3 separate regions of the Homo sapiens genome follow, and all the other regions are linked to region 1. Evidence: fine-mapped expression QTL. A gene starts in region 1. Each other region holds a variant in brackets. All regions are shown on one strand. Distances are between the middles of the regions.

Region 1 (10,282 bases):
CACCTTGCAAAGGCAAGAGAGAATCACAGAAGTATGTTTATGCCTTCATCTACACGTGGCTAAGTCTAGATGGTCTAGACAATCCTCCAGGGCTTGGCATAACCAATCCACTAGACTCAGGCATTTCCTTCCAGAAAGGACACCTGCCTTGTCCGACACCACTTTCACTTCTCTCCTCCGACTGCCCCCCTTGGGATCCTGAGTTCAAAGCCCAGTTCCAAATTCATATCCAAAAGGCCCTAATCACTTACCTCCTTTCAAATGTGTTCATCAAGAGAAATTTACCTAATTCTAGTCTAGGAACAGAAAGGAAGCAAGAATTGAAGTGTAAGATTTAAGAGTTCAATTAACATGACAAAGTCTGAAGAGCGGGGTCCTAGCTAATCTTACCAACTGTTGTCTTCAGCAGCAGCAGTAATATCATTAATGGCTAGTATATCACGTGTTTTCTCTGTGTAAGAAGGGTGCTAGTGTGTTACATGTTTTATTTCACTGATTTTTACATTATAAGGTTGAAATTATTACTCTCTCACCCCCATTCTACCGATGGAGGAGACAGGCCTAGAAAGGCCAAGCAATTGTCCATGACTGCACATCTAGTAAGTAGCAGAACTAGGGTTCTAAACAGATCTGATGTCATGTCTGAATCTGAATCATTTTGCTGTAATACTTTCTTGGTACAATTCTGAGGACAGCCATAAAGTGACAGGATTCACAACAGATCATTCCCTCTCTGTGAATGGTAAAGTAAGCAACTAATTGCAAAAAGACTACTTTAAAATTCTTCAGGAAGCCTATTTCGTGTAACAGAATCTTTGCACCAGAGGAAAACATTCCCCACTTAAGAATTCACTCCCATCACTAGAGGAAAAGGAACTTCACAATAAAGTACTAACTGTATAGTTTCTGCTCATCCCTTTTCCTTACTTTCCCACAGAACCATAATAATTAAAAAAACAATGTTCAAATATAGTGCCATAGGGTATTAAGAAAGAACTCACCCATCTCAGTTCAATTACTAAAATTAGTTAAGATTCAAACACTTTAAGAGCAAAATCTCTTTATTGTTTAAAAAATATCACAGAGTAATCAGATTTCTTTCTTAAAATAAAATTTTTAAATGTTCACTCTTCTGTTCTCTTTGGAAGCAATACTTTAATACATTGTAACATGCACAGCAGAGTAAAGTTCATTTCAATAGATCTACCCACTCTACTTGAATTTAAGTAAGTTACTATGTTGGGGGAATTAACTGCTTTGGCTGGAAAGTTTGCTCCAATTTTTATCCTTCTTAACTCAAGTAAATTATAGTTCACCTCCTCTGGGTCACTTTTAGCTCAACACTGCACTCGCCAATGATGGCCAGAGAGAGAGATTATAATTACTTGTCATCAAACTATTTTTGCCATGGTTATATATATTAATGTCTGTTCATCTACAGACATACATCTGAAATTCATAACTACATGGATATATTTTTCATCTTTTTCTATACATCAATTGGAAATAGATTTAAAAAGGGGCAAGCACAAGTCATTATTAAGAGGGCAACTACTGCGTTTTTAAGAATTATGATCAGGCCAGGTGCGGTGGCTCACGCCTGTAATCCCAGCACTTTGGGAGGCCCAAGTGGGTGGATTGCGTGAGCCCAGGAGTTTGAGACAAGCCTGGGCAACATGGCAAAACCCCATCTCTACAAAAAAAAAAAATCAGCCGGGCACAGTGGCTTGAGTAGTCCCAGCTACTCGGGAGGCTGAGGTGGGAGTAGACTTGAGCCGTGAGGGAGAGGTTGCAATGAGCTGAGATTGCGCCATTACACTCCAACGTGGGCGATACAGCAAGACCCCATCTCATAAAGAAAAAAGAATTATGATTATTCAATAATACAAGTCAGTAAGCATTCTTCCAGAGCCAGCAATGCAGTCTCCTTTCAATTGTAATGAAGCTCCTGTGTTTGGGCCTTATATAATACTACAGCTAAGGAAAGACATAGTTTTTTTTTAATTTATTTATTTATTGAGACAGTTTCGCTCTTGTCGCCCAGGCTGGAGTGCAATGGCGCAATCTCAGCTCATCGCAACCTCCACCTCCCAGGTTCAAGCGATTCTCCTGCCTCAGCCTCCTGAGCAGCTGGAGTTACAGGCATGTGCCACCACGCCCAGCTAGTTTTGTATTTTTAGTAGAGACAGGGTTTCTCCATGTTGGCCAGGCTGGTCTCAAACTCCCGACCTCAGGTGATCCGTCTGCCTCGGCCTCCCAAAGTTTTGGGATTATAGGCATGAGCCACCGGGCTCTGCCCAGTTTTATTTTTAAGGTACTGAATTCAAAAAGTTTCCTTCTATGTGTTAAGAATTGTCACATTAAAATATAAAGGCAAGAAAAAAATTGTAACACGATCTGTTTTCTTGGAAATTTACAACTTTGCATCCAAGGATGATTTTGTTACCTTGTAAAACAGCTTCCCAATACAAAAACTAATAACCCAAAGAAATGTTTCTACTGCTAAAACAATTACAATTAAAAATGAGTAAAACTCTAACTGGAACCACAAGTCCTGATACTCTGAGGCTCTGGGACTCAATTCAAAGGAAGTAGTCTCCAACAATAACAAAAATCAAGACGATCTCCGGCAGTGGAGAAAAGCAGAACTGAAGAGAAGAGGCGAGGTGATGTATCATGAAGAGATGAGGCCATCAGCCACTTTCGACACAAAAATCTCTGAGGCAGCAGAGCTTGGTGGTATATACTACCTTGGTTCTCTCCTCTTGTTCCCTTACTTGGACTCATAAACCTCTTTAAGACATCATCCATCTCCTCCAGAACTAACTGGGGACTTCAGGAGATGAGTGGGGTATAAGTTCAGAGATCCTGGCTTCAAGCAAATATCCCTATTAACAGAAAATAGGTGAGGGGAAGAAAAACAAAGAAATAAGGGAAGAAAATTACTTATAAACACATAAGTTTTGGGGGAAGTAGGGAAAGGGAAAGAGGAATGACAACTTAGGTCCGGGAGAAATTATTGCTAGTACCAGGACAAGTGGGCAAGTGAAGTGCCCACCAATCCGCAGATTAATGAGCACATCCACCTTTCTACACTTTATATCCTGGAGCTAGGGTAGGGACAAGTCTAGCAGCCAGATGATGGTTCAATTTCCCTAACAAAACTAAACAAAAATGTAAAACCCTTTTCTGTAACTAACTACTCTAATCTGTAGAGAAAGATAGTCCCCGAATCAACATTGTACAAACCATAGTTACAAAAGATCATATTTATATTCACCTGCTCATTCACTTATTTTCCTGAGCCCCTAATAAGTAAACGCCAAGGAAATCAGACACAGCTCCCACCTTCACATAGTTGACAGTCTAGCATAGAAAATAAGATGTGCTAAAACACAAAAGGAAACACAAAAACAAAAACATTTCCAGATGGGAGATGTGAAATTTTTAAGTGTGAAAAATTATCTTGTACCAAGTTTTACATGAAACTGGGTTATACAATAAATCCCCAAGAAGGATGAGAAACAAGAAATGGGGGTGGGGGGTATGAAAAATACTAATGCTAATACAGCAACTAACAACACCAAAAGTGACTTTAAATATGTTATATAAATTTAATCTACCTAACAACCCCATGAGAGAAGTACAATTTTCCCCCATTTACTAAGAAGGAAAGTTGAAAGAGACTAAGAAGTCTGTTTAAGAGGCACAACTTTTATTTTATTTATTTATTTGAGACGGAGTTTCACTCTTGTTGCCTAGGCTGGAGTGCAATGGCGAGATCTTGGCTCACTGCAACCTCCGCCTCCCGGGTTAAGAGGCACAACTTCTAAGTGACAGAGGTAGGATTTGAATCTAGGCACCCTGATTCTTACCTCTATTTTGCCGCATATAATTATAACAATATTATTACTAACACAACAACGCCGCTGTAGATTGTAGATCCATAGGCTACATACTTTCATTCATTTTCTTTGAATACTCACATGTCTATAATTTACAAATGAAAACATTAAGACTCTTAAGACGTTAAGAAACGTTTCCAGGTTATGCAAGTTACAAGAAGGTAGAGCCGGGATTCGAACTCAGATGGCTCAGATTCCGAAGGCTCTTTTCACGGCACCCCACACCCGAACTTGACTCCTTACCCTCAACCAAGCCAAGCCGTATCCCTCCTGGGAACAGCCGGCACCACCCACTCCAGCCTCGCGCCTCATAGACACACTTACTCGGGCGGCGTTCCACCGCCCGCACCCTCCCAGCTCTCCCCAGCACCCTCGTCCAGCCGGGCAAGGCTCTCACCAGGCGGGAGTCGTGGGACCCTCGCAATCTTGCTGGTGATCTCTGCAGTGAGCACCGCGAAGTCCTGCTCGTAACCTTCGAAGTCGGACGACATGGCGGCTCCGGAACGAGTAGCCCAGGCCAAAGCCTAGGTCAGGGAAAGGGCCTCGAGGGGCAGCGAGGGGCCCCGCGGCTTAGGAACCCCGGAAGGTGCCCCCGAGAGCAGAACGGAGAACCGGGGACAGCTCTCAACCCAGCCGCTTCCTGGTTGTTCGTCGCAATCTCGGTTCTCCGGAAATTGGGTTGCGTGCGTGCTTTATTTTCCGCTCCGACTTTAAGATAAGTAAGTTCGCAAAGGAAAAGCGCCCCAATTAGTGCCTCCCCCCAGAAAAGCGTATGAAAATATGCAAGTTCTGAGGGATCATTAGAAGCGTTTTTTCCCCCCTTCGTGTTCTGGGAATCGGCTCCGGATCCACACGCTACAAGGCACAGCAGCTTGCTTCCGGAGGGAGGTTTGAGGCGGCGAACCTCCGGAAGTGACAGTAACAGAGACTGCGCAGGGGGCCTGAGCGGGAGAGTCCTGGCGAGGGCGCTGGCCGAGAGGTGCTCGGCTTGTAGCAGGTCCCGCACTCCAGCCTCTCGCTGCCAGGGTTTGCTCTCTGCTTGTCCTGGGCTGAGGTGTCCATGACGGAGTCATCCAAGGAGGAAAAAATCTGTTCCGGGTGAGCCCAGGCCGCCCCGGATATGCGATGGCTGAGGAGCAGACACCAGGGACCACACTGAGGTGGGAGTCAAGGCAGGGAATATAAGCACGATTTTGGTGGTCTTTGTCCCACCAGAGTGGGAGCAGGCTCTCCTGAATGTTGAGACCAACCTGGCTTACCAGGATATTTCTTCCTTGGGTGAGGATTTATTTCTAAGCCCTCTGCTCCATGACTCGGGCGGGAAACTGAGGCACAAGTCAACAGCGTCTGCTGCGTGGTAGTCTGTATTATCCATGTAGCTCAGATCCTCTTCCAGATCTTCAGATCCAGTCCAGGCAGAGATGCCCTTCCACAAATCTCTCCGGAGCTCGCCGCCCTGCCTTCCATTTCCCTCGCTCCTGGAGGCACTTCCTCTTCTTTCTTCCCTCGAATCTTCTAATTCAGGTTCTTCTCATATACTCTTCTGGTCATAATTTCACACACACCACACACACTCTCGCTCTATCTCCTCCCTTCCTTTCCTTGCATGCTCTCTTTGCTTTCACTGTCGCTCCTTTACTTTTGGGCCAAATTGACTGTTCTCTTGATGTTTGGGTGGCGGGGTGGAGGAGACTGCAGGCAAATGGCATAGACCATGTCTGACTCATACTTGGCTTAATTCAAGACTTCATAAGAGGCAGCTTAGAATTTCATAAAGGGAGGTCGTTGACTTGCCTTCTATTCTGGTTCACCTGTTACTTGTGACCTTGGTCTAATCACTCAGCCTCTCTAAGACAATTTCTGTTCTATGAAGAAGGAAACTGAATTAGATCAACTCTAAGGTCCTAAAATTCTTTGTCTTCTCAAACTATTCACTAAGCGTTGGATGGTGACAGTCCCCTGACAAGCGGAGAAGGAATAAAAAAAACTATTTTGGAATCGTGTATCCAGTTTGCATGCCATTCAAACTTGTACCATATTTTGGATAAGTCAAAAGTAGTTCTTTTTGACATTTGACAAGATATGCATCCCAAAGTGTAGTGCACTTGTGAGATGCTGTTGTGTAGGTGTTTATTGTAGTTAACAAGTATGGTATGCAATAAAGGTTTTGTTTTGTTTTGTTTTAACTGAACTTTCCCATTTTGTTTTCTTTAGGTTGGGTTTCAGACCAAGACACTGGATTCTCCTAGTTAAGATAAAGAGCTTTGGGTGCCTGACAGTGAAAATGGTGTAATCTGCGTTAACAGTTCACAGCTTGAAGGCATGACAATTAAAGAACACACATGGACTTGTGGCACATGGAAATGTGCGCACAGAAAAAGGAAATCTATAATTCTTTTAAAGTAGGAAGGCATTCTTCCTTGCCAAAATGGGTACATTCTGTTCGGTTATCAAGTTTGAAAATCTACAAGAATTAAAGAGACTGTGTCACTGGGGTCCCATCATAGCCCTTGGTGTTATAGCAATATGTTCTACCATGGCCATGATTGACTCTGTGTTGTGGTATTGGCCCTTACATACAACTGGAGGAAGTGTGAATTTCATCATGTTGATAAATTGGACTGTCATGATTCTTTATAATTACTTCAATGCCATGTTTGTCGGTCCGGGCTTTGTCCCTCTGGGGTGGAAACCGGTAAGAAAGATTCTGTAAGACAATGAACTTTAATGATAATCGTATATTTGGTTTTTGCCTTATCTACTAACCAATAATACCAAACACAGCCTACTGTTTGTCCTCACAGAGACTAAGTATATTACTCTAATCACTGATCATTTAGGCTCGGAGACTTTATTTCATATCTGTTTGAACACATTGATCCAAAATAGCATTTTCCAAAGCAATTTTATTGAATATTTGCTCTGCATTAAAAAAAAGATGGAGGTGGGGTGGAGGTGGGATAGGTTCATGGTCAAAAGTTTAGGAAACATCACATGTCATACACAGTGAGGTTTGGCTGTAGTACCTTTTTTCATGTAATACATTAACATCCCTTAGAACTGAGAAAAACGCTTTAGAAACTGCTGGTTTAAATCATAAAGTTTTAAAATCATTGCACTGAAAATATAACATTGGGAAGTATAGTCCAAATCCATTTATAGCTTAAAAACTACTGGGAAATTTATGCTTATGAATGTCCATGTTTCCTGCTAAGGGACCACACCTGATGGCTTGTCAGAAAGGCAGAATCTTGGGCTCCACTTCAGACATACTGAAGCAGAATCTTTATTTTAATAAAGTGCCCAGGTGATGCTTAGGTATATTAAAGTTCGGGAAGCACTGGTGTATATCATGTGCTATGTACTATTCAAAATGCGTACAGAGGAGGGTAAGATGTAATTTGAACTCTGAAAGAGCTTATAACCTAAGCAAGAAACAAACGCACTTGTGCAAATCACTAAACTATAAAGTAGAACGTGATGGGTGCTGTTAAAGTTAGAAGAATTGAGCATTGTTAGTTGGGGACCTGAGGGAGGAGTGGGAATTTCCAAAGGAGATGGGGAAGAGGGCATTTCAGGTTGAAAGAATGGTGGGACCACGTATTCAGAAACAGTAGACAGCCCTGTGTGACTGGGGAAAAGATCATGTAGGGCAGAGACAGCTGAAACAAAGGCAGATTGTGACAGTCTTAAATACATGAGAAATTGTAGACCATAGAAAGTTGTAGGGGTTTTCAGGCAGAGTCTGACACAGTCAGAGGTGTATTATAGGAATATTATTTTGACAATACACGGTTTGTGCTGAAGAAAAACTACAGTAAAGGAAACTAGTTAGGAAGTGATTAAAATGGCCCAAGAAAGGGGTGGTGACGGGTAATGTCAAGGAGGGAGCAGATTTCAGTAGGACTATCAACTCACGATTAACTCCTCACTCTAAAATACCTGCTAAGTTGTCAGCTACCTTTTTCTGAACTCCTGAATCCACTAAGATTTGGGGTAAGTAGAACCAACTAGTGACACTGAATTTAGGTGGAGCACAAGGAAGAAAAATTTAAAAGGACTTCTGGGTAATTGGGAAAGTGATGCTGCTCTTACCAGAAAACTTATTTAAAAATATTTTAGCTCAAATAAGAGGACTGGAAATGCAAGTTAAGATTCTCTCCTTCCCCTATCGCCCATAAAAGAAAATCATACCGTAGGAATCATACTTATATTCAAGTATCCGATGATGCATTTTTGTTTCTGTTTTGCTGCCAAGGAAATTTCTCAGGATACCATGTATCTCCAGTATTGTAAAGTCTGCCAAGCATACAAGGCACCACGTTCACATCACTGCAGAAAGTGTAACAGGTACCTGTCTTTCTTGCTGTTCAGCGAGGACTGATCAACTAATTACTGATGTTTTCATTGTTGCTTATACTACATTAGTGCTACTTCTATTCACTGCAAGGTTACCATATTATAAACAATATTGTCAGAATACTTGTGTCCATAATCGCCATTTTATACTTAAATTATCTAGATAATAAATAGATTTAATTCTTCCTTGTTACAAGTGAAAAGATTTTCCAGAAAAATACAGATTTACTTTGCCTCTTGTCCTACAAGAACAAGGGAAAAAGGTATAAACCTTAAGTTTGTTTCCATATATCAAGATTAATTGTGTTAGTCAGCTGCCATCTGGACTAACTTTAGAATTGTTCTGAGTCTAAATTATAAGGGAGATCTGCTTTTCCCATTACTTATTGACAAACATTTACACTTTATACACATCTAATAATCCAGGTGCCTATTATCACAAATGTTTTAATATCAAAAACTTAGAAGAAAACTGACTATTAAAAATATGAAATAACCTGTGACCTTTTTTAATGAACAGCTATAATCACTGATTAGTAAGAAATTTAGAGAACCGTTGAAAGCAAATAAAGTTTTGTTTCAGGCCAAAACATTGTCTTCTATCAACAGTACACGGCAAGACTTTGTTTATTATACCATATCTTATATTCTGGAGTTAGCTTGCTTAGCTCAGAGATCCATTAACTAAAGGATACTATGAGAACAGGAAGGAAGTTACATGTGTCTATTTGAGCCCATTAACCCCACTGGAGGTCTATAAGGGATTTGTTGAGTCTCTATTGTAGGTCACTTGGGTCACTGCACTTACAAACTAGAAGAAAACCAGGAACCATGCTCATTTCTTTATAATGAGCATTATAAAGAGACCCTCTTTCAGTGGGTCTCCTGACTTCTTTAAACAAATACTTGTAGCTGACATCTTTTCCTCAGAAGCTGTTAGAAAGCCTGCCCTTTCCTGTGCTGTTTAGAATTTAAAAGGAGTCACTTAATTGTTTAAAAGCTCATAAAGATTTTTCTTTCTGTTCCATGAAGTATAATTCTCTCGTAGCTCATGGACATGCTGGATTCCTATTTGCTTGATCTTTTGAAGACCAAAGTTATTTAAAGTAGACAGGATTTTCTGCCTCATGTTTTATGTAAATTTTTCTTGTTAGATGTGTGATGAAGATGGACCATCACTGTCCTTGGATCAACAACTGTTGTGGTTACCAAAATCATGCTTCGTTCACACTGTTTCTCCTTTTAGCACCACTGGGTTGTATCCATGCTGCTTTCATTTTTGTGATGACTATGTACACACAGCTTTATCATCGGGTAAGTGAAAATGAAAATGTTTTGTTATAAAATCATCCATGCAAGATTAAATGGTAGTTATCAACATTTAAGAGGTTCCTTTTGGAAATATGCTTTCTGTGATTTAGTTGGGGAAATAGAACTTTGTTTTACTGGTATATGGGTTCCTTTTTAGAAAGCATTAAAACTTAAATTTTAAGATGAGGAAAGAGTATTTGTTCTGAAAACTTACATGCTGTAGTTGAAGGTGATAAATATTTTAGTACTGTATATGTAATTTGTTAGACTTCAAACTTAATAGTTATGGAAAGAATAGAAGAAAAAAAGACAACACTAGTGCTTCCTACTTTCATCCCATTCATGTGGCAAGTTGTAGTTCTTTGTTCATTTCTGATTCTAGTGCCCTGGAAGGTGGCTCATGGAGCAGATGCATACCATAAAATATAAACAGATTAAACCAGCAAGAGATCAAGTTGATTTATGGGCAAGTAGTCATGAGATAAAGTTCAAGGGACACAAACCTCCCTAAACAGGCCTTGAAAGTAAACGAGAGACACACCTGATGGGACTGCCAAACTGGAGAGTCTGTCCTTTGGGGAGGGGACAGCCCATATTTGATCTGCTAGCTTGTGGTGTTTGGAAATTCTAGCCCAGAAAAATCTGAAAATCTGGATTTTTATGTGAAATCTCTTGATTTTTAAATGTTGGCACCTAATTCTGAATGT
Region 2 (10,282 bases), 21 kb after region 1:
GAAGATAGTTCCCTGGAAAAGACAGTGTGATGGTGTGCCAAAAACACCTTTCCTGATCATACACATATAAGTAAACACCCATACCGAGTTCCCCCTGACTCTAGTTAGGAGCTGTCTTTAACCACATTAGTCCCTATTCGGGATCATCAAATTTGGGAAATACCTGTTCCTAGCTTGTTATGAACATTTAAAAATCTTATTTTTTTCCCCTTCAAACTGTGCTTATAATAGATAGCAAAGTGGGGAATAAAAGTCTAACTACAAGCTTATTAATTTGAAGTAATAGGACTTACTGCTTTCAGTAATGTCACTGTCATCCATCAGACTATTTCACCTCAATTTCATTTTCTCCCTCAGGTGTTTCAAGAATAAGGGGTTGGTTCCCTAGAAAATGTGTGGAAAAGTGTCCCTGTGATGCTGAAACAGATCAAGCCCCAGAGGGGGAGAAGAAAAATAGATAGCTGCTGTTAAAACAAAATTATCCTTTAAGTCTGCTTAATTACTTGAAAATTGTACATATTACTAAAGAATTATGCAATGAGCCTACTCTGGTTAAGATGTTCTTTTCCTCAAAGGTGCCCTAGTGCCATGATTTAAATATTTTTATTACCATTTTGAAATGGAGAAGCCATTCTGCATATGCCTTTGAATTCCTGCCCCTCTTTACCACCTCTTCCTCCCCCTCAAAGGAAAAACATTTCATCCAAGTAAGTTAACGGCATTTTCTGTAGGATTTTCTTATGCACTGCACACTCTGGACCTCACCTGCAGATACAGTTCCCCCCTTGCCAGGAGCATCTGCATGTGGTACTTCTCTTTTCCCTCAGTTGATATTTCTTATATGATATTCTAGATACTATAGAACTCAATTTGTCAGATTCAGTATAACCTCAGATTTTGTTACCTGTCTTTTAAAAATGCAGATTTTGTCAAATCAAATAAAGATCAATGGATGTTGGGTATAATCAGTTTTTACTTAAAGCATTTTTCTTTTTGCTGACTAAAAAGGTTCATCTTAGTTCCTTATGGAAAAACTGCTCTGCTGCCCTGTGGACAACTGGCATCTTAAAACGTGGCTTAAGACATGACACACTTGCTTCAAGATATTAACCCTATTAATGGGATATTGCGGTCATAGTGATGGCAGCGGATGGCAGTGGTGGCCTGAGGGGTGTTGAGGGGGAGCCGTGATAGGCAGGAGCCAAGCGTAGCTACAGCTGTCCAGCCGTGGCTGCGGACCCGGGCATCCTTGTGCTCTAGGGGGCCGAGGGGAAATACCCCCCCCACACCCCCCCCCCAACAACTGCTTGGCCTCTTCCTGCTCCTGGCACTCGCTCTGGAGCAAAGGTGAGGCCAAGCCCGGGTGCTGTGAGGACCTGGCCAGGTGTACGTGAGCTCTGAGTGGTGCTGACACCAGCGCCCTGCCGCCTAGGCCCCCTCTGGACTTTGGGCTGCCAGCCACAGAGGATTCCAGCTGGGGAAGCAACACCCCAAGGATCCCGTGGCAGTAGTGTTCTAGACTTTAAACATAGTGATATCAAACTACTCATGTACCCTTGAGTAAAAAGCTGAAGCTTGTGTGAGTGGTAGGATCCAAGCTGGTGGGCTTGGATGCTTAAATTGGGCTTGTCTAAACATAACAGTGGAATCACAGAAGGAAAGAGAAAGCCTATTTCTCTGGACTTCAGAAACCTTTCCAAGGCAGGGAATGTGAAGCTTTGGGGGCCAGGCCTGTAATAGTTGAGGATAAGGGAAGAGCACTTGGGAATTCAGCAGTGAACAGACAGGTAAAATATATGTAAGATGGAGTCATGTTATTGTGAAGCAAGAAGGTAGGACAGTCTTGAGTTGGCATTTGAAGCAGATGAGGGGACAAGTCATGTGCTTTGGGATATTTGCATTTTAGAGACAGCAGCAAGAACAAAAACAGGCTGGACCTGTGTCTGACACGTTTGAGAAACAGGAAGGTAACTAGTGAGGTTCAGCTGTAATGCGTGAGGGGAGAATAGGAAAGGAAGTGAAGGCGAGAAAGTTAAAGTGATAATGGGAGCTAGACTTTAAAAGTTAATTCCTGCCTACCCTTTTGTTTCAGATCCTTAAGAATAGATATTTCTTTGGCTTTTCTGGGCTCAAAATCTAGAAAGACCATCCAAGAACATTCTCTTTAACTCCAGTTGGAGGCCAGAAAAGAATACTATTAATATTCAAGATTATAATTAGAGTACAACAAAGATGGTAAAAGAATGGATATGACTTGTGCTCAGTTGGAGTTTTGGCTCAGCTGGTATTTGTTTTATTCTTTACAGCTATGGGATAAGAAGGTTTGGTCTTCAGAACTTACTTTTCTTCACTAACCTGTTCGCAGACTAGAATCATCTGTGGGTCTTCTTAACAATCTCAGTGCCCAGGCTGTATCCGGCCATTTAAGCCAGAATCCCTGGAGTGGCAACCAGGCATTAGTGGTTTTTTTGTTTTGTTTTTGTTTTTTTTTTTTGAGACAGAGTCTCACACTTTCACCCAGGCTGGAATGCAGTGGTGCGATCTCGGCTCGCTGCAAGCTCCGCCTCTCGGGTTCATGCCATTCTCCTGCCTCAATCTTCTGAGTAGCTGGGACTACAGGTGCCCGCCACCACGCCCAGCTAGTTTTTTGTATTTTTAGTAGAGATGGGGTTTCACCATAGTAGCCAGGATGTTCTCGGTCTCCTGACCTCATGATCCGTCCGCCTCGGCCTCCCAAAGTGCTGGGCATTAGTGTCTTTTTAAACTTCCTAGATAATTCTATTGTGTACCCAAGTTTAAGAACAGATACTGTACTTGATTTTTAAGGGGTCCTTGTTTAAGACTGATTTTCATCATGGTCCATGAGGAAAGAAACACCACAACGTAAGTATCTGTAATAGTTTATTTTAAAGACTTTACATTTACAAGTAGAAACAACATGTGTTATCTGTGGGTAAGGTAGAGCAGGAACTCTAATCCAAGGGTGGGGGAGATCAGTTGGTTCCTTCACAGAAAATAAGCCTGTTGTGTGGGCATCTTGCTTGCCTGTAGATCTTTGTTCCCAGTTCAGGAGGTTTTTATTCAGTGCTTGCTTCATTTACTGGAAAAGTTCACTGGGCCCACCTGTCAACTCCTTCCCCCACAGCTTCCAGCTCAGCAGCAAACTGTAGGGAACAGATTTACTCCCCAGTTCCTACTGTAAATAATGCTTTAAGAACAGCATTCCTTTTGGACAATATGTCATAGACCCAATTTTTAATACTCCCAAGTCAGATATCTAACTAGAGAGTTTAGGAAATGTTTGGTATGATCAAACTTTTCCCTTCAGTACACAATTTAATTTACGCAGAAGAGCATCGGAGACATTTGTCTCATAGATATGATTGACATGAGTGATAGGCTAAAACTAAAATTTTAGTGGTTTGTGGAGTGGCTAGAAAACATGAATTGTAAGCAGTTTTTCAGAATTTAAAAATCTCTTAGTTTGAACAGTAGAAGATGTAAATAAGCATAGAGACTGTTGGCAAGTTATGTTTATCACAAAACAAAGAAGAAGGCACAGAGGGTCCCTTTGACCCTTGAACTTGTGGTTACTAATAGTATTAAGGTTGGAAATCATGAGGAAGGACACAGAACATAAACTGGGATCTTGAAGACAGGCATGTTGATAAAAGTAGCCCTGAAGCCTTAATATTAGCAACATCGAAGATGGGAAAGACAGGATTGATTTATTTGGGAACTAAGTTTACACATTATATGTCTCAATATAAAACAAAAGCTATGGCTTTAGAGTTTAACAGGTTAAAAAAAAATAGGAGGAAAGGCAAAACAAATGTAAGAATAGTTTTTAATCCATTTTCTCACAAGCAGTGCACAGTGGGCCGGCAGGTACTTAAGTACCTTATCCTAATCCTGGATGTGCTCATACAGGCTGTCAATTTGGGTCCGAAAGTATTTGGAAAGCTCTCCTCGCTTTGCTTTCAATGTTGGTGTCAAGAGCCCATTTTCAATGGAAAATGGCTCTGGATGAAGAAAAATGGCTTTGACCTGGAAGATGAACACACACACATCCATGCTCATTAGTGATTTGGACTTCTCTGCAGAGCCCCCTGAGTGCTCTGTGAAGAAAGTGAGGTTGATGCAGTGAAAGGGTAAAGGTAACAGTAACACATGCCCATTCCCACAAACATAATTTAAGAAAGTAATGAGTAGGGAGAAGGGAGAATGGACAATAAACAGCAAAAAAAGGGCGCTGTACAAGTAACTACAAAAGGTCATTTTGTAGTTAATGGCACAAAATCTAAAATCAATTCCTTAGAAATTATACATTTAAACCTCATTAGATGGAAACTTTAAACAAAACTTTCTGACAAGAGGCCAGTATAACATCAGTGGTAGCACACACCTGTTCAAAAGTTTTAAGGCCACTTTCTTTCCCAATTTTCTGCAAGTCTTCTAAAATGGCTTCCCTTACAACCTAAGAATACAAAACATCACTTAAAGCATGGCTGTTTCAAAAAGCCTGAAGGGCTAAGCATGAACCAACTCAAAGTGCCTGTCAAAGCCATGCAGTATGAAAGCAGGAATATAAAACTATGCACAAGCACATTATATGCCCAATATTGAAAGAAAAACTGAGAAGAAAAGGCACATCTAAGTGTTAACAGTTTTCTCTGAATAGCATTTTTACTCTTCTTTCCCAATCTTTTCCCACAATGAACATATTATTTTAAATAGAAAAGAGAGTTTTATTTTTTAAACTCTCCATCCTATCCCCGAGTCCCATAAAACTATTCAGTCTGTTTGGGCTGCAGCCACTTGTGACAGATGCAGGAACTGGTGAGGCATCCTCTCCTCCACGATGG[G/A]CCCATGGGTGTGCATAAAGCTTTCCTAGGCAAGACTTACTTGGTTTTGGCACAGTTCCTCAAAGGAGCCCTTCACCCCAAGCTTGGCTGCAAATGAGGGAAGTACATCTGTGTCAGGAACCACCACTCCTACTAAGGATGACTATGGAAAGGAAATAAAAGGTGCAAGGGCATGAGAGAAGTTATGTAGGGATGTCCCCCAGTAGTTAAATAAAGCAGAATTATGTCATTGTAATAGTTATTTCCCCAAAACCTTAAATCCAGTACTAGTGTTCTTTTCTCACCATATATTTTCAACACCATGGAACTGTAATCCCATTTTCCCACTCAATATCTCATTACAAAGATGTTCCATTCAAATCTGATCCTTCAACATTAAGCTTAAAGCGCCTCTGGCTTGTCCATGTCAACTCTCCCCTTGTCCCCTAAAAGCTACATTTAAGCACAGTGTGTATAAAACAGTTCGTTGTTTTGGGATAAGGAGTTCCTTAAAGCTACGTTTAAGCATAGTATGTATAAAACAACAGTTTGTTGATCAAACTTTTGTTTGTTGCTTTATATATATTGCAACAGTTTGTTGTTTTATACATACTGCTCTTAAACATAGCTTTAAGGAACTCCTTAAGGAATGGGAACTAAGTGCAATGTGGAGCTCATTTTTTACTGAATCATTACCTTTTAGTATAGCCATTCTAAACAATTCTACTGACTTGTGTACAACGTCCATCATAGTTTTGAAATTTTTTAAATTGAAATTGCCTTATTTGAGGTTTGGAATGTAACTTCATTTTTTTTTTTTTTTTTAGTTTTATAAGCTTGGATCTTCTCATTCTGAACCCAACTATACAAATTTCCTGTAGCTACAAGAACCAGCATGGTTTGTGACTGAAATGGGCTATTGTTAAAATGATATATTACCCGTAAGCTCTCCCCGTGTACAAAAATTTGTAACACTGGTTGACTCCTGTTGTAGATATTTTCTATCTTCTCTGGTGCAATGTATTCTCCTTGGGCCAGCTTGAAAATGTTCTTTTTACGGTCGATGATCTTCAGAGTTCCATTCTACATGAGACAGATAAAAGTATCAGTATTTTTGAGCCACAGAGATGATATCAGTGGGGAGAGTGGTGAAGTCACAGTCATCTTTCTTCTCTAAAGCTGATTTCTCCAGAGACTTTTGAGCTGTCTTTCATTTCTCTTTCTTGGCTTTGGTGAAAGGGGAGGGAAGCATCGTGCAGCAAGAACCTGTCTTTACTGTATATCTATGTGGAGAGTCAATGCGCAGCCTTAGAGAAAGTCTCCTGGATCTACTGGAGTTATGCAAATTGATGCCTCATCCAAGGAAGAAATTGCACAGCTCTCAATTTCCAATCACTAATTTCCAATTAGTTCATTTTCAGAACTCTCAGAAATAGAGGTGTTGTCTTTTGTTTAGACTTTTGATTTGATTTGAATAGTTCTCCCACCACTTGACTCCCTGTTATGTTTTCCTCCTTGTTAGATCCGGGAGCAGGCTCAAACAGCTCCACTGTGCTAATCAAGCAACTCAATTACTGGGCTTGTTAGGACAGCAACAGGGCTGAGAGGACTCTGACCAGCCACCAAAGGTCATTTGCAGCTTCATTTCTCTGAACTAATTGGTCTGAGGAGCTTAGGTCTTTAGGGATTTGAATTGTAGAATTGGGACAAATGGCAAATAAAATCCACATGCTAACACCCTAAGTAGGGCGACTAACTAAACCAACACTGGAACTATCACAAGGCCGACTTGATAAATTAGCCATCAATTCAGCCTAACGTTCATTATCTGAAAGTGATTAATAAGGTGCAGCCTTCTATAACCCTGGTGTGGGGACATATCTGTTGCTTACATCCTAGGCTTATTAGAGTGTTATTTAATTCTGTTACTAGACAGAAACAAATATATTAGCAAGATACTACCAAACCCAAATCAATAAAATGCATCGTTAGGACCAGTGTTCTTAAAAGTTACATTGTCAAGCATTCCTTAAATCTCACTTAAATCTTAAATATTGATTGAGCAAGAAAGGAGTTTTAAGTTCTAGTGACATTCCCACTTCCCCAGCACATAGTTAAGACAAAACTTTTGAGAGGGAAGATCTTTTGGGAAATCCCATCACTGCCCTTGCAATAATTTCCTTTCTTCTTAGGAAAACTAATAGCAACTACTGCTAATTATCAAGCTATGCTAAAAATATGTCTCTGTATCTTCCACAGAAAGGGGCTGTGAAGGTCAATGAGAGACAAACACTAGCCTCTGCAAACACTTGATTTAGAAATCCTTCTTCCTTGTTTTGATATGCCTGTGAATTAATAGGGAGGATATTTATCCCAAGAAACTCATAAGAGGCAAAAGCTGTGGACCAACGGCATTATCAAACCAAAGTTTTTTGGGTTTTTGTTTTGTTTTGTTTTGGTAGACACAGAGTCTTGCTATGTTGCTCAGGCTGGTCTCAAACTCCTGGCCTCAAACAATTCTCCCTCCTCAGTCTCCTAAAGTGTTAGGATTATAGGCGTGAGCTGCCACACTTGGCTTCAAACCACAACTTCTGCCTCAAGAAAAGTTAAGGGGGAAAAAAAAAGGACAGAGTAGTACATCTCCCTTCCCCTTTCCTAGAGAAGTCACCTAATTTTTCCCTGGCTGGTAGCAAATTTATTCCATTGCAGGGGACCCATGCCAACTCTGATGTGCAGGTCTACCTGACCTGTTAAAGAATCCCACCTTCAGTTTGGGTCTAAAAACAGTGCTAGGATCACTGACTTACTGCTTGCTGGTTGTATATTCGATAAGGAATAAGGCAAGAAGAAAACACTTCAACTGGTCTACATCTTGGTGTCTTCTGTAACAGTGTGATCAAAATACCAAAAGTACTCTGGCAGTACTTCTGGTGTGGTAGCTTATACCAGCAATCCCAGAACTTTGGGAGGTCAAGGCAAGAGGATTGCTTGAGGCCAGGAGTTTGAGTCTATCCTGGTCAACTCAGCGAGACCCCATCTCTATAAAAATTTTTTTTTAAGAAAGACTTTCTAGCTTTGGCAGCTCCTATTCACACGTTAAATTACTTTCTCAGAATTTTATATTGTTGATCCATGGAAGAGCTGCAACCAGAACACAAATCTCATGACTTCCAGCCTATATATATATATATATATATATTTTTTTTTTTTTTTTTTTTTTTTTTTTTTTTTTTGAGACAGAGACTCGCTCTGTCCCCCAGGCTGGAGTGCAGTGGTGTGATCTTGGCTCACTGCAAGCTCCGCCTCCTGGGTTCAAGCCATTCTCCTGCCTCAGCCTCCCGAGTAGCTGGAACTACAGGCGCCCACCACCACGCCCAGCTAATTTTTTGTATTTTTAGTAGAGACGGGGTTTCACCGTGTTAGCCAGGATGGTCTCGATCTCCTGACCTTGTGATCCGCCCGCCTCGGCCTCCCAAAGTGCTGGGATTACAGGTGTGAGCCACCATGCCCAGCCTTTTTTTAACTTAACCTAGATTCTTTCAATTGTATGTTCTTTTTTTTTTTTTTTTGAGACAGAGTCTCTGTCACCCAGGCTGGAGTGCAGTGGCACAATCTTGGCTCACTGCAACCTCTATCTCCTGGGTTCAAGCGATTCTCCTGCCTCAGCCTCCCAAGTAGGTGGGATTACAGGTGCCCGTTACCATGCCCAGCTAATTTTTGTATTTTTAGTAGAGACGGAGTTTCACCATGTTGGCCAGGCTGGTCTTGAACTCCTGACCTCAGGTGATCCACCACCTCAGTCTGTATGTTCTTCTCTGGATAGTATGAGGAAGTCATAAGCCAGGTAGGGTACAAACCTAATCCCCTCCAGCTGCCTCAGCTGATTAACCTACTTGCATTTCTGCACCTCTTGCTATAAGCAGATTGTTCTTCTCAGTCCATTAGCATAGACTTCCAGGAGTTCTGATGATATACCTACCGGGAGCCAGCGACCAATGTCTCCTGTGTGAAGCCAGCCATCACTGTCCAGGGCTTCCTGTGTCTTCTCAGGGTCCTTCAGGTATCCTTTGAACACGTTTGTACCCTTGATGCAGACCTGCACAGCAGACATACAAGGCGGTGACAATAGCAAAGGCTGCTCCTCCCAGCGTGGGCAGTTTATGAAACACCTGCTCCCCTTAAATCATTTGATGGCTTCCACTACACTGTGAAGAGCACCAGATCTAAGTCTCCACTATAGGGGATAGGAAAGTGAAGTTCAGAATGCTTAATTCTTTGCTAACAATCTCAAAGGGGCCAAATCCAAGTTTGCTTACAATTATTTGCTCTTTCTGATATAAACCTCCCCACCATGACTGTCTGACCACAGGGCATGACCTACCCACCTCTCCTTCATTATTCACTGTAAAGTAGTTCATGTCAGCCACATCTTCCAGCTTCACGTAATTGCAAGCCAGGGGCACCCCAACGTGACCTAGAACATACCGTGCTGAATTAGCTGAGAAACTCTTGCATGGTGATAATTCCAGGCACATTTCTAAGATATTTATGAATTGACTCTAGAAGAGGAAGACTGAAAAATCACCTGGCACCAATGCAGACTAGCCAAGATAGGCAGGCCTGGACCCAAAACTTGAATTTTGCATTTGCCACATTAGTCCAGAGAACTGAAGTTATCTAAACTCCAAAGTCCTAGTTCAGTTAGAACCTTTCTCCCAACCATGGCACCTCCTGCCCAGCAGATGGAGGACTTACCTGATGTCCAGTCCCCAGGTAATGTAAATGTACAGCCACCTGTGCATTCTGTTTGACCATAAGCTTCATACACCTGGGAAACCAAAGAAGAGCTTTTAGACTTACTCAAGATAAAGTGTGAGCTGGCCACGTGCTATGGTCAAGACACGAGGAAAGCAAGGTCTCTAAGGGTTCGAGACCACTTAGTGTCTTAAAACCTTGAACTTGGAGGGGGCGGTGGCTCATGCCTGTAATCCCAGCACTTTGGGAGGCCGAGGCGGGAGGATCACCTGAGATCAGGAGTTTGAGACCAGCCTGGCCAACATGGTGAAACCCCATCTCTACAAAAACACAAAAAAAATTAGCTGGGCATGATGGCAGGTGTCTGTAATCCCAGCTACTTGAGAGGCTGAGGTGGGAGAATCTCTTGAACCTGGGAGGCAGAGGTTGCAGTGAGCTGAAATCACGCCATTGTACTCCAGCCTGGGTGACAGAGCGAGACTCCGTCTCAAAAAACAAACAAACAAACAAACGAACAAACAAAAAACCTTGAACTCATACCCAAGCTGCAAAGTATTTACTACCAAGCCTTCTGGCCATTCAGAAACCAAAAGGGTCTGGAAATAGACCAAAGCATAGAACTTTATATGAAAATGCAGCATTTTGGCCAGGCATGGTGGCTCATGCTTGTAATCCCAGCACTT
Region 3 (10,282 bases), 95 kb after region 1:
GTCTCTTGCTATTTTCAACAACCAGGTCCAGAACGAACAGATTTCTGCCCTGTTTGGACCAGCATGCCCAGAAGCAGCTGAGGTAGAGTATATATAGCCTCTGGAAACTTTAAGTTTCCATTGGAAGGGGTGGCCTTCAAGATGATGGTACAGATTTGAGTAATCTCCTGACAAGGATCACATTATTATAACAATAACCGTGTAGATCTTGAATATCATTTTTGAGATGCAATTAGTCTATGTAATTAGAAGAGTTAACATTCTCTTTAAAGAAAGCCTTTCTTTCTTTCTTTTTTTTTTTAATGCTCTGTTGTCCAGGCTGGAGTGCAGTGGCATGATCTTGGCTCACTGCAGCCTCTGCCTCCCAAGTTTAAGCGATTCTTCCATCTCAGCCTCCCGAGTAGCTGGGATTACAGGAGTGCCCCACCATGCTCAGCTAATTTTTGTATTTTTAATAGAGACAGGGTTTCATCATGTTGTCCGGGCTGCTCTCAAACTCCTGACCTCAGGTGATCCACTGGTCTCGGCCTCCTAAAGTGCTGGGATTACAGGCGTGAGCCACCACATATGGCCAGAAAGCCTTTCAAATCAATAATTGTTTATTCACCTACCCTCTTCCTCCTCTTGTTGACTGTCTGAAGTTGATGCTATTGTGTATAGACTCTTATAGTTCACTCTCATGTTCCTAAGCTACAAAGCTTAGGAAAATTAAGAAGAAAAAAATGCAGCCAGGCGCAGTGGCTCACGCCTGTAATCCCAGCACTTTGGGAGGCCAAGGAGGGTGGATCACGAGGTCAGGAAATGGAGACCATTCTGGCTAACACAGTGAAACCCCGTCTCTACTAAAAAAAAATACAAAAAAATTAGCCGGGCATGGTGGCGCATGCCTGTAGTCCCAGCTCCTCGGGAGGCTAAGGCAGGAGAATGGCGTGAACCCGGAGGCAGAGCTTGCAGTGAGCCGAGATTGTGCCACTGCACTCCAGCCTGGGTGACACAGCAAGACTCCGTCTCAAAAAATAAATAAATAAATAAATAAATAAATAAATAAAAGAAGAAGAAGAAGAAACAAATGCTTGGTTTTAAATAGAAAACTATCAATTGTTTGAGTAGGCTTTTCTTTGGCGTATATAATAAATTAATCAGTGATAATGCAAGTCAATGAGAAAGAATCAAGTATGGCAGCCTACCTTACCTACAGCAAGAAAATGAGGGAAATGAATGACTTGTATTTGTTTGGTTGTTGGGATGAACTTTGTTGGTGTCCTTCAGTATCATGTCGCCTGAAAAGTGTTGATGCAAAAGGTGAACAGGAAGGAGCAGCACAGGTCTTACTCTCAACAATGTTGCAGAACTATCATTAGCTGGAGCTGCAGAATTAAGTTTACATTTAAATTGGACCCATTCTCTCCTGGAATTCCCCATCTGACACATTTCTATCTGTTCAAGGGTTACTTGTCTAAGAGTTAATATCAAATGTCATGGAGCCTTTCTTTATCCCTTCACCTCTGCCCTCCTTATCCCTAATTCCCCAATCGAAAGTAATTGTTTACTTCTCTAAATGCCTATAAATCTATTATCTATGCATCTTAAAGAATATATTTAATCTTAAAGCTATTTTTTATATACCTTGGTTCTTGTAATAAACCATGAGCTCCTTCAAGAGCAAGGTCTCCAAAGATTTTTATATGTGATAGGCCCCTAATTAAAATGAATGAAAAATGAATAAAGGAGAAATTAAGAAAGAGAGAATGAGTAGTTATGACTGTGGGCCATGGAACCATATTACCTAATTTCCAACCCTGCTCCACTATTTGCTAGCTATGTAACTTACATCTCTGTGTCTTCCTGTTTTATCTTAAAGAGGGGGTAATAATACCTAGAAATGTTGTGAAAGTTGAAATGACACATGTAAGCTCCTAGAGTGCTCGGCACAGAGTAAGTGCTCAATTGATGCTCGCTTTCGTTATCTTTGTTCTATGAGGCTGACGTTGTCATCAACATTACAAAAGCGAGGGCCCAGTATGACCCACAGACTCACAGAATCTGACGTTTATGCAGATGTCTCACACTGGGGTTTGCGTGTACATAAACTCAATTATACAAAGACATCCTTTGGGTTATTTTCAAGGTTATCGGCTTGCTGGCCTCTGAGTGGAACACCCCATGTTTGACTTTGTTGGACAAACCACAAAACTGTCTGACACCTGTGTGAAACTTGTGTCACCCAAGCAGGACATTGGTGATGTGCTCCAGGAAAGTCTCCAGTACCTGGGCTGGAAACACATTGGGATGTTTGGAGGCTACTCTGGGGCTTCCTCCTGGGATGGAGTGGATGAACTGTGGAGGGTTGTAGAGAATGAACTCAAATCCCATTTTATCATCACTGCCAGCATGAGATACACCAACAATAGTCTAGTCCTTCTTCAAGAGCATCTTTGGAGGATATCATCAATTGCCAGGGGTAAGTAGAAAAGTCTTCTGTTGCTTTTATTTGGAGAGAAAAATGGGACAAGCAGATTTGAAAAAAAAAAAAACAACCCAAAAAACTCTTCACTTTTCTATGAGTGTAAAAGCAGATGGAAACAAGGTACAAAATTAATAATATATAAAAGCAACTTCCTTTATTGCTTGACATCACTAACAAAAAATTGTGGGTTTTTTTTTTTGGTCTAAAGTAAAACCCCACATGCTACAGTGTTATGATACACAGCGCAAGTTCTAGAAGCATCTTACAGGTGGGCTGGGTCCTGGACTTCACTATTTGTTTACAGCATGGGCTCTGCAGATTGACAGACCTAGGTTTGAATCCAGTCTCTGACATTTTAGCTGTGTCCTCCTTGGGTAAGTACCTTAATCTCTCTGTATCTCAAATATCTTTTCTATAAAATGGAGACAACCATCCTACCTATGTCACAGAAAGGGGAGGATTAAATAAGGTTATGCCTGTAAAGTGCTTAGCACCATGTCTGGACAAGTAGTTGGTCAACATATGACAGCAATTATTTTTGTGGTGATGCCTATAAGGCTCAACTTTCTAGCATGAATTAGTAACTGACTCCTTTCTGTTCCTCAAATAAACTGAACTCTCTCCAGCCCTGAGACTTTAGGGTTTTCTACTCCCTTGGCCTAGGGTGTCACCTGCACCCACTCCAACCAGTGATGCTAATGTGGGACTCTAAGGCACAAGTGGCTCTCACTTGTTTTTCTTCCACAGCTACCTCCCTGTGTCCCTGTTGAATCTCTAATAAAGGGCTTGAAAGACCAACACTGATCCAATGAGGCAATTGTTATGTGGTCTCAGTCACATTCCACCCTACCCAGCACCTTCTTAAGGGTAGCGTCCTCTCATCCTTGCATCCTTGCCGACTGGGTCCAGAGCCCACCTCCTCAGGAAGGCCTTCTCTAACCACTTGATGTGAAGCTGTTTCCCCTCCCCACCCATTAGCATCACAGCATCCGTTTCCAACCTCACTAATTAGAATCTTCAATGATCTCTTTAATCTGTCCACTTGTATGCTGTCTGCTGGCTCGTTCACTGCTATGTCTGTGCCCAGCAAAGTGCCTGACACATAATTGGAGCTCAGATAAATAGACTATAAATTACTTCATTTAAAAAACTAGCTGGGTGCGTTGGCGCACGCCTGTAATCCCAGCACTTTGGGAGGCTGAGGTGGGCAGATCATTCAAGGCCAGGAGTTGGAGACCAGCCTAGTCAACATGGTGAAATGCTGTCCCTACTAAAAATACAAAAATTAGCCAGGTGTGATGGTGCATGCCTGTAATCCCAGCTGTCCTGGAGGCTGAGACATAAGAATTGCTTGAACCCAGGAGGCGGAGGTTGCAGTGAGCCGAGATTGTACCATTGTACTCCATGCAGCCTGGTCAATACAGCAGACTCTGTCTCAAAAATAAATAAATAAAAAATAAAACCCACTACTTCATTTGTGTATTCTGAAAATGAACGGTGATGGGATTAAACGGCAGAAAAGTACCATGGCCTACTCCTCCCTCCGGCCAGCCCAACTCAGAAAGTCCAAATGCCCTTGAAAGTCCACATGTCCAAAGGTCCTCTGTGAACTCCTCTTAGCTGAAGTGTGGCTGACAAGTCACAAGCCAGGTCTGCTGTTCTGATTTTTGAGCCAAAAAGAAAAAAAAAACCTAGAGCACAGAGGTGATCCCAAACTTTTTTCACTTGTACATTGTGGGGAGGCTGCAGCAAAGACTTCAGTGCTATAACTGCTAGTTTGTACACTTCAGGTTTGGTTAAAGAATGTAAAAACTCAGGGACTAGTTTAGGCATTCCTGTTTCTTAAGGCATGCCCAAGGAAAGAAAAAGTTCACGTCTCATTTACAGTGACTTTAGGCCAGACTTAGAGTGAGAGCATGCGTGAGAAAGCACACATACACAAGCATGTGCAACTGGCGGACTCTGGTTTTCATTCTTATAGTTATCATCTTAACGTGCAGCTCAGAGGATGCAAAAATTATTCTTCTGGCTGCAGCAAACCTGGGACTCAGCACTGGAGAATTTGTTTTCATCATTTTGCAGCAGTTGGAGGTGGGTACCGTTGACCACTCAATGGCTCTGGTAGTAAGAGGTAGCAAGTATGGAGCACTCGTTATGACCCACATGTATTAGCTCACTGAGCACTCACTACAACCCTGTGAGGTAGGCACTCTCGCGTCCTCTTCTTAAAATTAGGACACTAAGACAGAGCTGGAAGAACTTGCCCAGAGTTCTTCTCCACAGCTAGTGAAAGGCTGAACCAGGCCATGAACTAGGTCAGCTGGCTTGAAGGCCTAGCCCGCTGTATTCCGTATCAGACAACAACAGTTGAGGAACTACTGTCATTTCTACCGGGCAGCTGAGACCTTCCCAAGGGACCCTCAGACACAAGCGGCTCTCACTTCTTTTTCTTCCACAGCTACCGCCGTGTCCCTGCTGAAGCTTTAACAAAGGGCTGGAAAGACCAACATACAGATGCAACGAAGCAATTCTTAGGCAGTCTGATTCTTTTGGTAATGAGAATGGCTAAAAACACAACTGCTTACTATGAGGACTGAGTTACACATTTTACACACGATTGCACTTAATATTCTCAATGGCTTTGCAAGGCAGTTCCTAAATGCATTATTTATGTGCCTGTACATTTTGTATTTGGTATTTCGAACAGCCTTGGAAGGTAGATATTATTGTTATTCCAATGTACAGGTAAAAAAACCCAAGGCTTAATTAAGGTACCTTATCTAAGATTTCAGCACTCCCAAGTGGCATACCTAGTCTTCCAGACTGGGCCTTTCAGTCTGAGCTCACCCCACACAACTCTGCCTTCTGGAGAGCTTATGGAGTACTGGGCCTCACTGTGAGTGCTTAATACATTAACGCTTATTGCAGCCCACCACCACACCATGGGGTATTTTGGATCTGGAAATTGGTGGGTTCTTGGTCTCACTGACTTCAAGAACGAAGCTGCGAACCCTCGAGGTGAGTGTTACACCTCTTAAAGATGGTGTGTCCGGAGTTTGTTCCTTCACATGTTCAGATGTGTCTGGAGTTTCTTCCTTTTGGTGGGTTTGTGGTCTCGCTGACTTAAGGAGTGAAGTTGCAGACCTTCACGGTAAATGTTACAGCTCTTAAACGCAGCGTGGCTGGAATTGTTCATTCCTTCACGTGGGTTTGTGGTCTCGCTGGCCTCAGGAGTGAAATTACAGACCTTCACAGTGAGTGCTACAGCTGTTACAGGTGGCGCATCCGGAATCGTTCATCACTCCCAGTGGGTTCACGGTCTCGGCAGCTTCAGGAGTAAAGCTGCAGACTTTCGCACCATGTTATAGCTCACAAAGGTAACATAGAGCTAGAGCAAGCAGCAGCAAAACTTTAGCCCAAAAAGCAAGACAACAAACTTTCCAAAAAGAACCCAAAAGGGTTATCGCTGTTAGCCCACGCAGCTTTTTATTCCCTTATCTGACCCCACCCACATCCTGCTGATTGGTCCACTTAACAGAGAGCTGATTGGTCCATTTTGACAGGGTGCTGATTGGTGCGTTTACACACCTTGAGCTAGACAGAGTGCTGATTGGTGTGTTTACAATCCTTTAGCTAGACATAAAAGTTTTCCAAGTGCCGACCCAACTCAGGAACCCTGCTGCCTTCGCCTAGTGGATGCCGCCTGCGGAGCTGCCTGCCAGTCCCAAGCCACGCACCCACCCTTCTCAGCCCTTGGGCGGTCGATGGGCGGGGCCCTTTGGGGACGCTGGGGCTGCGCGGAAGCCCACTGGTGGCGGGGGGGGCGGAGGGGAGGCATGGCAGCTGCAGGTCCTAAGCCCTGCCGCGTGGGGAGGCAGCTGAGGCGCGGTGAGAATTCGAGTGTGGCGCGGACGGGCCGGCAGTGCTGTGGCACCCGGTGAACCCTCCGCAGCCGCTGGCCCAGGTGCTGAGCCCCTCACTGCCCGGGGCTGGCGGCGCTGGCCGGAGCTCCGAGTGCGGAGCCCACCCCCACCCGGAACTCACGCTGTCCAGCGAGCGGCACCCAGCCCCGGTTCCCGCCCGCGA[T/C]TCTCCCTCCACACCTCCCTGCAAGCAGAGGGAGCTGGTTCCGGCCTCGGGCAACCCAGAAAGGGGCTCCCACAGTGCAGCGGCGGGCTGAAGGGCTCCTGAAGCACCGCCAGAGTGGACGCCGAGGCCAAGGAGGCGCCAAGAGCGAGCGAGGGCTGCTAGCACGTTGTCACCTCACTTTTATCATCCTCGTTTTACAGAAGAGGAAACTGAGGTTCAGAGAGGTGCCAAAACTTGCCCAAGGCCATCCAACTAGTATGAGGGAGAGCTAGCATTCAAACCCAGGTGGCCTGGGCTCCTTTTCTACCTCTCATCAAGTGCACTGATGCATGGAAATAATGCACGTAGTATCTGCCTCACAGGGGGCTATTGTGTCTGTGCTTGTAAGCATCTTACACAACAGGCATCTACAAAAGCTACTTGCCTTTTCCTATGGACACGGTGCATTATTTTTCTAGCAGTTTTATCTTTCTAAAATAAGCTTTTTAAAAAAATCACAAGAAGCTGAAATAGGACAGAAGAAAATAAAGGGAGATATATAGTAATGTCCCAGATTTTTCTTTCTTTATCATGAAGTCTTTCAGATCCACAAAAGCATCTCAGATTTCTTTGGGTAGGGAGCTGGAATCCTAAAGGCATGCCAGACTTTCCAGAACACTCTCTTACCCTAGATATCCATTGTGACCGCCTCCCTTTCTCTTCACTTTTCCTCTCATCTCTGCCTTCAGGCACATTGTTTTGGCAGGGAAACTTTTCAACTCCCCTGTTGCTTTCTCCCACACATTGATGATCCATTCCAACTGGTGTGTAATGGCAGAAAGAAGGTAGAACTAAGAATACACCAATGTCTATGCAATTGAATTCATGCTGCTTCATGAAAGAATAGCATAAATCTATTTTATGAAACTATTCCCAGTATAGGTTTAGGTGGAAAAAAATCAAGCTGCATTATGGTATGATATCATCATATATATATATATATGTGTGAGTGTGATGTCATATATATGTATATATACATACATATATGTATAATGAGTGGGTATATACTGTTCATAATAGTAACGTAGATTATAATGATAATGCCACAAGCAAAAAAAATTTAAAAAAAGCAAGAATCTATAGTCTTAAGCTTTTTAAGTTTTTGCAATCATTGTTAGTAGGTAAGCTTTCTGCATCTTAGCAGCTGTATGCACCAGGAACATTTTTTCTTTTTATTTGTGGCTTTCCTTCCACTGCTTATATGCCAGCTAGAGAATGTGGACCTTGTATTGCAGGCCTTCTGGAATCACTGTGTTTCCAGGAATTAGAATGTAGTGGTTCAAATTAAACATTGTGTTACACGCAGTGCCCTTGCCAAGGCATTTCCTACCGAATAACAACATTTATTTTATTACTTTTTAGGACCGTTTTTGGAAGGAAGTACTGACAAATCAGAAAATGATGCACCTCCAAAAGGTGTATGGGTCACTGCTTCTCATTGCCCTCAGCTCCTACAGAAAAGGCCGTGGAGACGAAGGCTTTTGGAAACAAGTCTACCAAACACCGAGGAGGTCGCCCTTCCGCAGCACCATCTCCTGGGAGGAGCAGGTGTGATGCCGGGTCTTCCAGCTCAGGCTCCCTCCTCCCCTTCTTTGATCATATTTGTGTTTGCCTTTGCATTTCTCCCTCTTATTTCTCCTCATCTCTCCCTACCCCCCTTACACACATGCAGGTGCACACACACATGCACTTCCCCATCTTCCACGCCCAAAATAAACAGCAGTTTGATGCTCTCTTGTGAATTTATACCTCAGAGGTTACTGGGTGAAAGGCCTTTGGAGCAGAGGCCTATGCCCCCATCCTACTGCTGCTGTTTGCTAACTGTAGGACCTTGTAGTGAATTGCTTAACCTCCCTACACCTCGGTCTCTTCTTCTGTGAAATGGGACTGATAATGGCATCTACCTCCCAGGCTGTGGTGGTGTGTATTTAGTAACATTGTCCATGGAAGAAGCAAAGTATATATCTTCTTCTTTTGAGGGAAGGTCTCGCTGTGTCACCCAGGCTAGAGTGCAGTGGTGCAGTCATGCTCACTACATCCTCGACTTCCTGGGCCCAAGCAACCCTCCCACTTCAGCCTCCTAAGTAGCTGGAAATATAGACACATGCCATCATGTCTTGATAATTAAAAAAAAATTTTTTTTGTAGAGACGCGATTTCCCTATGTTGCCAAGGCAGCTCTTGAACTCCTGGGCTCAAGCAATCCTTCTGACTTGGCCTCCCAAAGTGCTAGAATTACAGGCGTGAGCCACTGTGCCTGGCCCAGAACAGATATTAATGGGTACCCAGACCATGACAATTTCCTTCCCCAGGAGGATGCCAGGACCTAGACCCAGGATGGAGTGGTCAGAGATGTGGAGCTAGGACAGGTCAGGGCCAGCAGGTGGGCTGGAAAAGGGAGGAGATGATCAGGAGAGAGAGGGTCCGCCTGTGGTAATCCCAGTATGTGTGTGATGAGGAGGCAGTATCTGGCTTTCACAGAGAAGTTTTTGAAGAGAGACCTTTGTCCAGAGCTGGAGCTACTTCCAGTGTGGGGCCAAGCTGAAGCCTAAGGTGACCACAGGCCACTGATGACAAGGAGTTTGATTAGAAATGAGGGGGCCGATTGTGGATCCCAACATATAAGACAAGATAACCAATTAAAGAATATTTGAGTAACAGTCTACTAAGTGTCAGCTTTGTATCTGGTACTGTTGGGAGAACAGTGCCTGGCACTTAGTAGGCACTTGTATTTTCCTTGACTGCCCAATAGAAGACATCACGTCCTGAAGACCTACTAAGGGTCAGGGACTGCAATGGATAGTTTACCTATTATGCCTCATTTAACTATTGTCACATTCAACCCAACAGCAGTTTTATCCCCCTCCTTTTTTTTTTTTTGAGATGGAGTCTCGCTCTGTCACCTAGGCTGGAGTGCAGTGGCGCAATCTCGGCTCACAGTAACCTCTGCCTCCTGGGTTCAAGTGATTTTCCTGCCTCAGCCTCCTGAGTAGCTGGGATTACAGGCACCTGCCACCACGCTGGGCTAATTTTTGTATTTTTAGTAAAGATGGGGTTTCACTATGTTGGCCAGGCTGGTCTCCAACTCCTGACCTCGTGATCCGCCCGCCTTGGCCTCCCAAAGTGCTGGGATTACAGGCGTGAGCCAACGCGCCCAGCCTATCCCCATTTTATAAACGAGTGAGCTGAGATTCAGAGAGGCTGTGGAACTTACCTCGGGACTCATAGCCAGTAGGGAGCTGAGCTGGTCTAGTTCCAGCATGTACCCTCTTTCCCTGAAACCATGCTCCCTCCCACCTGTGGCCTGAAGAGCGTCCCTGAAGGATCAGAAGATCTAAGTGGGAAACGCAGCATTCAGAAGGAAAATGAAGACTGCGACGTCTGGGTTTCATAGTGCAGGCGCAGGTGTATGCTGGACCCTCTGCTCTGTGGGATGGGGGAAGAAAGTGCTGTGTGCCACTGCCGGGCGGACGGAACAGAGATTCCTCCTAATTTAGTGCTGGACGGTGACCCAAGAGGCCAAGAACCTCTTGAGACCCTGCTTTGCTTGTCTTATTGAAGGTGAGCCCTTACTCTGCCTACCTTCACGACGCCGTCCTGCTCTATGCTGAGACCGTGAAGCAGGTGGTAAAGGCTGGAGGCGACTTCCAGGATGGGTGGCAGCTGGTCAGCGCTCTGAAGGGTTCCAGTC

Which allele goes with the higher level. Alleles are on the strand shown, and positions count from the first base shown. SD is a standard deviation of normalised expression in the study named. Not every link is listed here.
With allele A in place of G in region 2, the expression in adrenal gland of the gene that starts at base 4,856 in region 1 is lower (moderate effect, 0.55 SD a copy in GTEx).

Evidence for each region. PIP is the estimated chance that this variant, and not a neighbour inherited with it, causes the effect. A credible set is the group of variants that fine-mapping cannot tell apart.
Region 2: its variant is the best candidate, but not a certain one, in a credible set for the expression of ZDHHC6 in adrenal gland (GTEx, PIP 0.59).
Region 3: its variant is the best candidate, but not a certain one, in a credible set for the expression of ZDHHC6 in nasal epithelium (TOPMed, PIP 0.75).

The regions. Positions count from the first base shown.
Region 1 is chr10:112,441,488-112,451,769 of GRCh38, reverse strand. ZDHHC6 (zDHHC palmitoyltransferase 6) reads left to right here and starts at 4,856. Exons shown (of 11, transcript NM_022494.3): 1 at 4,856-5,065; 2 at 6,120-6,600; 3 at 8,164-8,255; 4 at 9,419-9,578. The coding sequence starts at 6,334. It overlaps VTI1A (vesicle transport through interaction with t-SNAREs 1A), which reads right to left and starts at 4,555. Exons shown (of 8, transcript NM_145206.4): 1 at 4,303-4,555. The coding sequence starts at 4,396. RefSeq lists enhancers at 4,490-4,749, 4,950-5,069.
Region 2 is chr10:112,420,983-112,431,264 of GRCh38, reverse strand. ACSL5 (acyl-CoA synthetase long chain family member 5) reads right to left here. Exons shown (of 21, transcript NM_203379.2): 15 at 9,600-9,672; 16 at 9,230-9,318; 17 at 8,824-8,940; 18 at 5,784-5,927; 19 at 4,906-5,007; 20 at 4,406-4,477; 21 at 2,889-4,047. The coding sequence ends at 3,907. It overlaps ZDHHC6 (zDHHC palmitoyltransferase 6), which reads left to right. Exons shown (of 11, transcript NM_022494.3): 11 at 358-965. The coding sequence ends at 461. Among named protein-coding and RNA genes, the nearest start is that of ZDHHC6, 21 kb to the left of the region's middle. The variant G/A (reference allele first, on the strand shown) is at 4,866.
Region 3 is chr10:112,346,021-112,356,302 of GRCh38, reverse strand. It overlaps the pseudogene GUCY2GP. Among named protein-coding and RNA genes, the nearest start is that of ACSL5, 23 kb to the left of the region's middle. The variant T/C (reference allele first, on the strand shown) is at 6,554.